Regions from separate parts of the Homo sapiens genome. Here region 1 is linked to region 2. Evidence: fine-mapped expression QTL. A gene starts in region 2. The other region holds a variant in brackets. All regions are shown on one strand. Distances are from middle to middle. Region 1 overlaps SETD2 (SET domain containing 2, histone lysine methyltransferase). Region 2 holds the start of CSPG5 (chondroitin sulfate proteoglycan 5).

What was found. PIP is the estimated chance that this variant, and not a neighbour inherited with it, causes the effect.
Region 1: its variant is the best candidate, but not a certain one, in a credible set for the expression of CSPG5 in sun-exposed skin (GTEx, PIP 0.78).

What each region holds. Positions count from the first base shown.
Region 1 is chr3:47,052,806-47,056,805 of GRCh38, forward strand. All of the region lies in intron 15 of SETD2 (SET domain containing 2, histone lysine methyltransferase), which reads right to left. Among named protein-coding and RNA genes, the nearest start is that of NBEAL2, 75 kb to the left of the region's middle. The variant A/G (reference allele first, on the strand shown) is at 1,919.
Region 2 is chr3:47,576,818-47,581,336 of GRCh38, forward strand. CSPG5 (chondroitin sulfate proteoglycan 5) reads right to left here and starts at 2,048. Exons shown (of 5, transcript NM_006574.4): 1 at 1,780-2,048; 2 at 16-1,111. The coding sequence starts at 1,876. RefSeq lists silencers at 1,259-1,348, 1,399-1,458, 1,499-1,548 and an enhancer at 2,673-3,377.

The DNA.
Region 1 (4,000 bases), 520 kb before region 2:
ACTCTGTCTCCAAAAATAAAAAAAAATTGTTACACGAATGCTAGTTTCTCAAATATATACCCACTAGAAGTATCTTTAAACTGTGACTTTTTTTTATTTTTTGAGACAGAGTCTCGCTCTGTCTCCCAGGCTAGAGTGCAATGGCGCAATCTTGGCTCACCACAACCTCCACCTCCTGGGTTCAAATGATTCTCCTGCCTCAGCCTCCCCAGTAGCTGGTATTACAGGCACCCACCATCATGCCCAGCTAATTTTTGTATTTTTGTAGAGATGGGTTTCACCATGTTGGCCAGACTGGTCTCGAACTCCTGACTTCAGGTGATCTGCCCACCTTGGCCTCCAAACGTGCTGGGATTACAGGAGTGAGCCACCATGCCCGGCCTAAAATGTGATTTCTAATGGGAATTACAGAAGAAATGTGAGAAGGTCCAATAGGTTATAGAGAGAAAAATACAATTTTTCTGTTACCACCTCTAGAATAATAAAAAATCATTATTACTTTATATCTGGATCACTTCACTTTATACTATGTCAGTGCAAAAGTAGTTTTCACCATTTTTAACAGCAAAAGCCATGACTACTTTTGCACCAACCTAAAATGAAAAATTATAGTCTAAGCACTCAAACTCTTGAGATGTAATTTTGTATAACTTTGTGAGAGTAAGTCACTTATTAGTGTCACAAGACCACTACAAATTACGTGACCTCTGTTAAAATTGAGCTTTTATGTTTAGTATGCAGTTGTGTAAAAAAATCAGTCACCTCTGATAACACATTTGCTCCAAATATTAAAGATACTGAATATGTAGATACACAGACGTAAATGTATATTATATCATGTTACATATTACTTCACCGCCAAGGTTATCACAGCTTGCAAACTCTGAGTAGCCATGTTGTATGGTTAACACTGGGCTTCAACAACACAAACTTCAAGGCTCCTAGAGGTCAGATTTTTAGGGCTAGACAACAGATGGATGAACATGACCAGATGTTACTTCACAGCCCATTAATGTCAATAATCTCCCCTGAATACTATTAAGGTAACTATTTGTGTAAGTAACCATCAAGGTATATGGTGCTTTGAATCTATCATTATTAATATCCCTTATCTTAATGCAAATCAAACCATTCTGAGGCATTCTGCTCATTTTATAGATGAGAAAACAAAGACTCAAGAATATTAATGCCTGTTTCTAGGATGCACAGTAAATGATAAACCAGGACTCAAAACACATACTAACAATATATTCTATGTTTCTCAATACCCCCAAAGCCCAGTATCATCTGATCAATTAATCTCACACAGTGGGGAACGGAAGGATAGTTGAACCACCACAGCCCATTTACCTACTACTTAAGTACACACAAAGTAGATTAGGGAATCAGTAAGTACTTCTTGATAGGGACAGAATGAAAGACTAGAAGCAAGTAAATTGTGATGCTTGGCTCTTAGGGCTAATGAATAAAACCAAGAGAATCTTTTTTTCTCATTGGGAAGGAATAAATGGATTTTATTTTATAAGAAAAATCATATGACCAGGGAGCTCTTTACTGAGGAGTCTTTAATGGATATCTTTCATTGCTGTTGCTTAGGCTCTAGTACTGAGATGGGACCTATTTCAGGAATAGGAATGGGGATAGACATAAACCATTTTTACTGTATCCCTGATACATATTTTTAGGGAAAAACTCAAAACTAATGGCTTGGTCCAAGAAAGAATATGGCTCATACCCAAGTCAAACTGACAGTAAAACAAAACCAAAACCAAAACCCAAAACATTCTGTAGGAGGGAGAATGAAACATACTCTCTCCCTACACACACACACAAACAATTCACACCTGATGACCAATAATGCCCACATTTTTACTAGCCTTCTGTAACAACAGTCATTTTAAACCAAACAGCAAACAAA[A/G]AGCAGAAAAAAACTATAAGCATGTTTAATGGAATGCTATTTATAATTATGAAAAATAACTTTTCATTTAAATGACTACCCCCAGTAAAATGGATGACTATATAAGCAAATAGGGTATTATACCCATTAAAACATTTATGTATGTATATGTATATGTACACACACACATATAGTATAATAGTAAATAATTTGAAAAAGTGGTTACAAATCATTTTAAGGAATTGAGTCAAATCTCTTTCCCCTACTCCAAGATCCCATCACAGTGGTCCCCATACTTATCCCCACTGGCTCCTCTTAAATAAAGTCTGACTTACTATCTTAAAAAAAAATCATTTTAAGTAGGAAAACATGGGATAAAAAACTTCAAGTCAAGACAAATATATAAAATACATAAAACTTGCTTTAAAGGATCATAAAAAATGAAAGTAGTTAATACAGTTAGGGTTTTAGTAATTAAAACAGGATACCTTGTCATGGCCATTTTAACAAATGTTTTAATACAGCTTCATTATGAAAATATGAACAGAAGTAAAAATTACTGTTTAATACTAAGTATTATGTGCAGGAAACATTGTTGGGAGTCTTCAACATCCACAATAATTCATTTTTAAGGGGTAATGAGGAGTGCTGGGAGAGAGACAGAAATGTGGTGATGATAATGCTTTGAACATTTTTTTTTCAAAGCTTTAAATGTACTGCTGGCCAGGCACAGTGGCTCACGTCTGTAATCTCAACACTTTGGGAGGGCCAAGGCAGGAGAACTGCTTGAGGCCAGGAGTTCAAGACCAGCCTGGGCAACACAGTGAGACCGCATCTCTTAAAAAAATTAGCAGGGTACAGTGATGCACACCTGTAGTCCCAGCTATTTGGGAGGTGGGAAGATCACTTGAGCCCAGGAGTTTAAGGCTGTAGTGAGCTATGATCGCATCACTGTACTCCAGCCCGGGTGGCAGAGCAAGACCTAATCTCTTAAAATAAAATAAAAAATAAAAAAAAGTTCTGCCGGCCAGGCACGGTGGCTCACGTCAGTAATCCCACCAGCACTTTGGGAGGCCGAGGTGGGTGGATCACGAGGTCAGGAGATTGAGACCATCCTGGCTAACACGGCGAAACCCCGTCTCTACTAAAAATACAAAAAAATTAGCCAGGCGTGGTGGTGGGCGCCTGTAGTCCAAGCTACTCGGGAGCCTGAGGCAGGAGAATGGCGTGAACCCGGGAGGCGGAGCTTGCAGTGAACCGAGATCGCGCCACTGCACTCCAGCCTGGGGGACAGAGCGAGACTCCGTCTCAAAAAAAAAAAAAAAAAAAAAAAAAAAAAAAGTTCTGCCTTGTATAATCTAAAAAAAAAAAAAAAGAAAAGAAAACATGATTTTTATTTATTTATTTATTTATTTATTTATTTATTTATTTATTTATTTTGAGATGGCATCTTGCCCTGTTGTCCAGGCTGGGGTACAGTGACGCTATCTCAGCTCACTGTAACCTCTGCCTCCTGGGTTCAAGCGATTCTCCTGCCTCAGCCTACCAAGTAGCTGGGATTACAGGCATGAGCCACCATGGCCGGCTAATTTTTTTTATTTTTTAGTAGAGATGGGGTTTCACCATGTTGGCCCGGCTGATCTCAAACTCCTGACTTCAGGTGATCCGTCCACCTCGGCCTCCCAAAGTGCTGGGATTACAGGTGTGAGCTACCACGCCTGGCCTGACCATGATTTTTAGAAAACACAAAAATATTACCATGATGAAGGGTTCTCCCTTGGGAGAAATGGAGGCCTGCTAACAACAATGTGAGTAGGTTGGAAAGTGAATCTCTATATCTAGTTCAGCCTTCAGATGACTGCAGCCATGGCCAACAGCTTGACTGTAATTTCATGGAAAACCCTGAGCCAGATCCACCCTGCTAAGCTGCTTCTGAGTTACTTATTGTCTTAAGCTGACAAGTTCTGGCAATATTTCACACAATAGATAACCAATACATATAAAGTTGATCAATATATACAAGTAGTCCATGGTAAGACTTCCTCCCCTATACCAGATTTAACTAACATCCCATGAACAGACCATAAAGCAGAAAAGAAAAGT
Region 2 (4,519 bases):
CTGCCATGCCCTTACCTGCAGAAGGCCCCTATGTTCTCCACCAGGTAGCACTGGCCGCCATTGTGACAGTAACTTGGGAAGAGGTCGCACACTGACCGGCAGGAGCCGTTATGCCGCACAAAGCCACTGCGGCACTCAGTGCCATTTTCACTGGAGGCCAAGTCCCTGCCTGGCTCTCCTGGGCGGGGCCTGAGGGCGATGCTGCTGCCGGGGACCGACCCCAGAGTGTGCTGTGGAGGGACAGCATGCCACCGACTGGTGGGCTGGCCTGTCCCGGGCCCCAGACCAGGCTTCCCAGTGGGCACTAGAAGCTCATTTTCATCTTCTAGGTCTCCACCTCCTACTGCATCTTTGTCATCCTCCTCTTCCTCCTCCTCTTCATCCAAGTCATCATAAAAGGATGTGGTGGGGTAGAAATCAGATTCATCGAAGGGGGTGAAATCATCGTATAAGTCAAGCAGGCTCCAGGAAGGGGTCTCTCCCTCAGTATCAGGGTGGTTCTCTGAGGTTCCTGGTGACCCTGGGAAGCTCCCCAGATCTGCGCCACGACCCTCACCATCCAGTCCTTCGAAGTAGTCGATGTCAATGATATCTGATGCCGGTTGGGGCTCCAGGGTGCCCTGAAATGGGTAAGTCAGCTCTGGCCCTTGAGGGTCGGGTGTGCTGCCCCCCAGGTTCAGCCAAACCTCCAAGGGGCTCTCCTTGGGGAGTTCAGAAGCTGGGCTCAGCTTGTCGCCGGGGGTGGGGGAGGGTGGCCCGCTGGCCTCTGTAGCCTCAGGAATGGCAGGGGGCATGATTGACTGCCCGAGGACCTCGTGGGGAGCCTGGAGCGTAGCTGGAAGGGCCTGGGCATCGCCGCTGCCCGCCTCTGCGGTCACTCCTCCCAGGCCTGGGCTGTCAGCTTCCAGCCAGGCGGTGCCGGTCACCGCAGCCGACTCCTGCAGCACCTCTTCTGGCCCGGCCAGCTCGCCACCGGGCGCCGTCCACGACGCCTCATCTTCCCCAGCCGCTGGTGGGCCGGCTTCTTCCCGCGTGTCGTTGGCAGGCGGCTCCCACGCCGGGCTGCCCTTCACCAGCTCTTCGGCCTCAACCGCGCTGCCCGCCTCACGCGCTGCGGGCGGGAGGGCAAGGGGCGGGACGTCAGGGCGGCGCGCTGAGGAGCCCTGGAGCCCCGGCCCGCCCCGGTCAGGCCCGCTCGCCTAGACCTGGTCAACCCAGACCTCGCCACCCTCAGACCCCACCGCCCCAGTGTGACCCCAGCCACCCGGTACCTCTAAGCCCCGTCCCGGAGTCTGCCCCCAAGACGAGGATCACACCCCGCCCAACGCCTCGCGGCTCGGCCCCGCCCGACCTGCCCCGCCGTCTGAAGAGCCAGGCCAGGGCGGCCCCCAGCTCGGCCCACCCATAAGTCTCACCCTCGGGAACCCACCCTGAGCCGCGTCCACTGGCTCCCGCCCTCAGCTCCAGGTCCCGCCCCGAAGTCTCACCCTCAGGCCCCGCCCCGGCCCCGCCCCGGCCCCGCCCCCGGCCCCGCCCCCAGTCCGCACCGCGGCCCGCGCGCTTGGGTCCCGGCTACCCCAACCGGGGTCGGCCCCCACGCGGGTCGGCCTTTCCCGGACCCCCACCACCTCCTGGGACCATTCCGCCGCCCGGCCGCGGCCAGGCGGTGCCCCGCCCCCTTGCCACAGCTCACAGCTCCACCTGTCCCCGCCGCCAGCGGGACCCCTGCCCTGGGTGGGGCACGAGGGCCGCGGGGGTCCCGGGCGCAGTCATACCTACCCGGCACGGCCCCAGAGGCCAGGACCAGCGCGGCCCCCAGAAACAGCAGCAGTGGCGGCGGCCCCCGGCCCGGGCCCCCGCCCCCGGCTCGCCCCATGGCGCGGCGCCCCGACCGCTGTCCGCGGTCCGCCCGGCTGGCTGCGCCCTCGGCTCGCCCGGCCGCCGCGCCTCCCGCCGGTTCTGCGGCCGCCTCAGCCCACGATGGGCAGCGCGAGGAGCCGCATGCCGCCGCCGCCGCCGTCCGCCGCTGTCCCCGGCGCGCCGCGCCTCCCCGCCTCCCGCGCCGCCGCTGCCGCCGCTGCGCTCAGCGCCGCCCTCACCCCGCCCGCCGCGCCGGCCCCGCCGCACGTAGCGGTGACGCCGGCCCCTTGGTCAGCCTGCCAGGGGAACAGACAGACCCCTCGCTGGGGACTAGGAGACACACGGACGGGGAGTGCGGGGCAGGCGGACGGGGAGCGCGAGGCAGGCGCACGGCGCGGCGCGCGGCGTTAGGCGGCAGGTGCACGGGCGGGAGACCTGTGGGATGGGGCCACGGTCCCGCCCCAGGTGAACAGGCGGCACGGGGCCCCGACCCGGAGGAACCCACCCGCCACGCGGCAAGCACGGAGGCGGGGACGTCGCGGGCCCAGTTACCCGCAGGGTCGGGGCGGGGTCCAGAAGAGCCGCAGGGGGCGGAAGCACGAGCCCCCACTGTGGAAACAAGCCAGGCCCGGGGCGCATGGAGCCTCTCGGATTCTGCACCAATCCCGTGTTCCGGGCGGGAAGGCTCTCAGGGAGGTCTCCGGGTCTCCACGAGGGAGGGGCGGGCGTTGGCAGAGCCTGGCAAGGGGGCGAAGCCGACCGCCCAGGCTCTAATCGGATCAGATCTAATCCGTTCGCAGCCAAAGCCACTAGCCTAGATCTCGCACAGCCAGGCCCGCCATAACGCATCCCGGGAGCAAGGGGTAAGACCCTCCCTGGGACTGCGGCTACCTCGCCTTCCTTCTAGTCTCCGGGCAGCCTGGGGAGCGGCCTTTAATCCTGGTCCCTTCTCCGGGATACGTCGTCCCCCAGGTGTCTCAGACCACCAAAACTCAGGTTCCTGGGTAGACCAGGGGGGTCTAGATCCCCAGCCGGGCACACATGGATGCTTGGCTTTAGAGTGATCTGTGGGGCCCATTCACAGCTTCAGGGCTCACAGGGCAACCCAAGACCACGCACCAGGAGGTCTGCTTAGTCGGCAGGAGGAACCGCAACCTAGTTACTTAGTTTATTCCCCCAAACCGACCGTCTACCCCTTAATGTGTTACTCACCCAAATGACAGTTCAGGGTATCAGCCCAAGGAGATAGGACAACTCCAGTATTTAAGAGACGGTCCCATTGCTGTCTTAGAAGACCAAATAAGTGACCAAGATGGAGATTCTATCTCCTAATCTTTCTGATACATATCTCCAGATGGAGTTGCCTTGGTTCAAAACCTGTTTCTCAGCAGAACTATGGCTGCAGCCTATTTGCCTAGCCTAGCGTCTCCACCTCTCCTGCCTGGTAAACTCCTCATGCCAGAAAAACTCAGTTCTTATCACCTTTCCCTCTATGAAGGCTTCTCAGCAGTTACACTTAATGCCCATCATCTCATCTTATCTACAGTTATTCCTCACTGGACTGCAAGGCACTTGAGTGCACAGGGCTGGTAACAGAGGGAGGCTCCATATCAGACAGGCATAAATGAACGAATGGCAACCACCCACACCCATCCCAGAACTGTGGTCTGGAGAGCCTTGAAAAAAGGGGTAAGGCTCTTTCTTTCATAGTTTCATGCTGCCTCCGGGGACCAAGTAAAATATGTTTGAAACAATAGCCTTCTCTAAACAGGGGACCATGTAGGGCTTTGCACTCACCTCAGCCACAGAGGCAGCAACGCACCCTTAACTGCCTCCAACCCATCTCTGCTTCCCTTGTGTGCAGCTTAACTCCTGTCACCTTTTACTGTATGTAGACTCTCTGTGTTCCTTTGCTTGTTTCCTCAACTCGGGTTGTGGCTGTCAGAGCGGCCTACCTCCTCCTTCCCTTCCTGAGGCCAGTCTGTGTGGGAAGACCTCATGGATGGGTTCCTTGATGTCTGGGGCATGACAACCACTCACACATTTTCAACAGGGTTTAATGGAGGAAGTTCTCCCACTCATTTTAAATATATTTTGTTAATTATTTAAGTATCTTCTTCTTCCCTTTCCTGGAGATGAAGTCTGCTAACGCTTCCTTCAATTTGGAATTTTTTTTTTTTGTTGAGACAGAGTCTCACTCTGTCACCCAGACTAGAGTGCAATGGTGTGATATTGACTCACTGCAACCTCTGCCTCCTGGGTTCAAGTGATTCTCTGCCTCAGCCTCCCGAGTAGCTGGGATTACAGGCATGCCACGCCCGGCTAATTTGGTATTTTTTGTAGAGACGGGGTTTCTCCATGTTGGCTCAGGCTGGTCTCGAACTCCAGGCCTCAGGTGATCCGCCCGCCTTGGCCTCCCAAAGTGCTGGGATTGCAGGCATGAGCCACCGTGCCCGGCCCAACTTGAGACTTTAAATCAATTGTTGCCACTCAGTTTCATTCTGATCTTCCCTAGTGGATCTCACTAGCAGTTTGAGAACTGAGCATAGCACACTTGGTTGGGTAACACCTCCACAAGATGAATGGGAAAATTCAGTCAGTGGAACGTGATGGGAAGGGCAGGATTCAGCTGCAGCGTGACTTTGAGTTAGCAACCTGT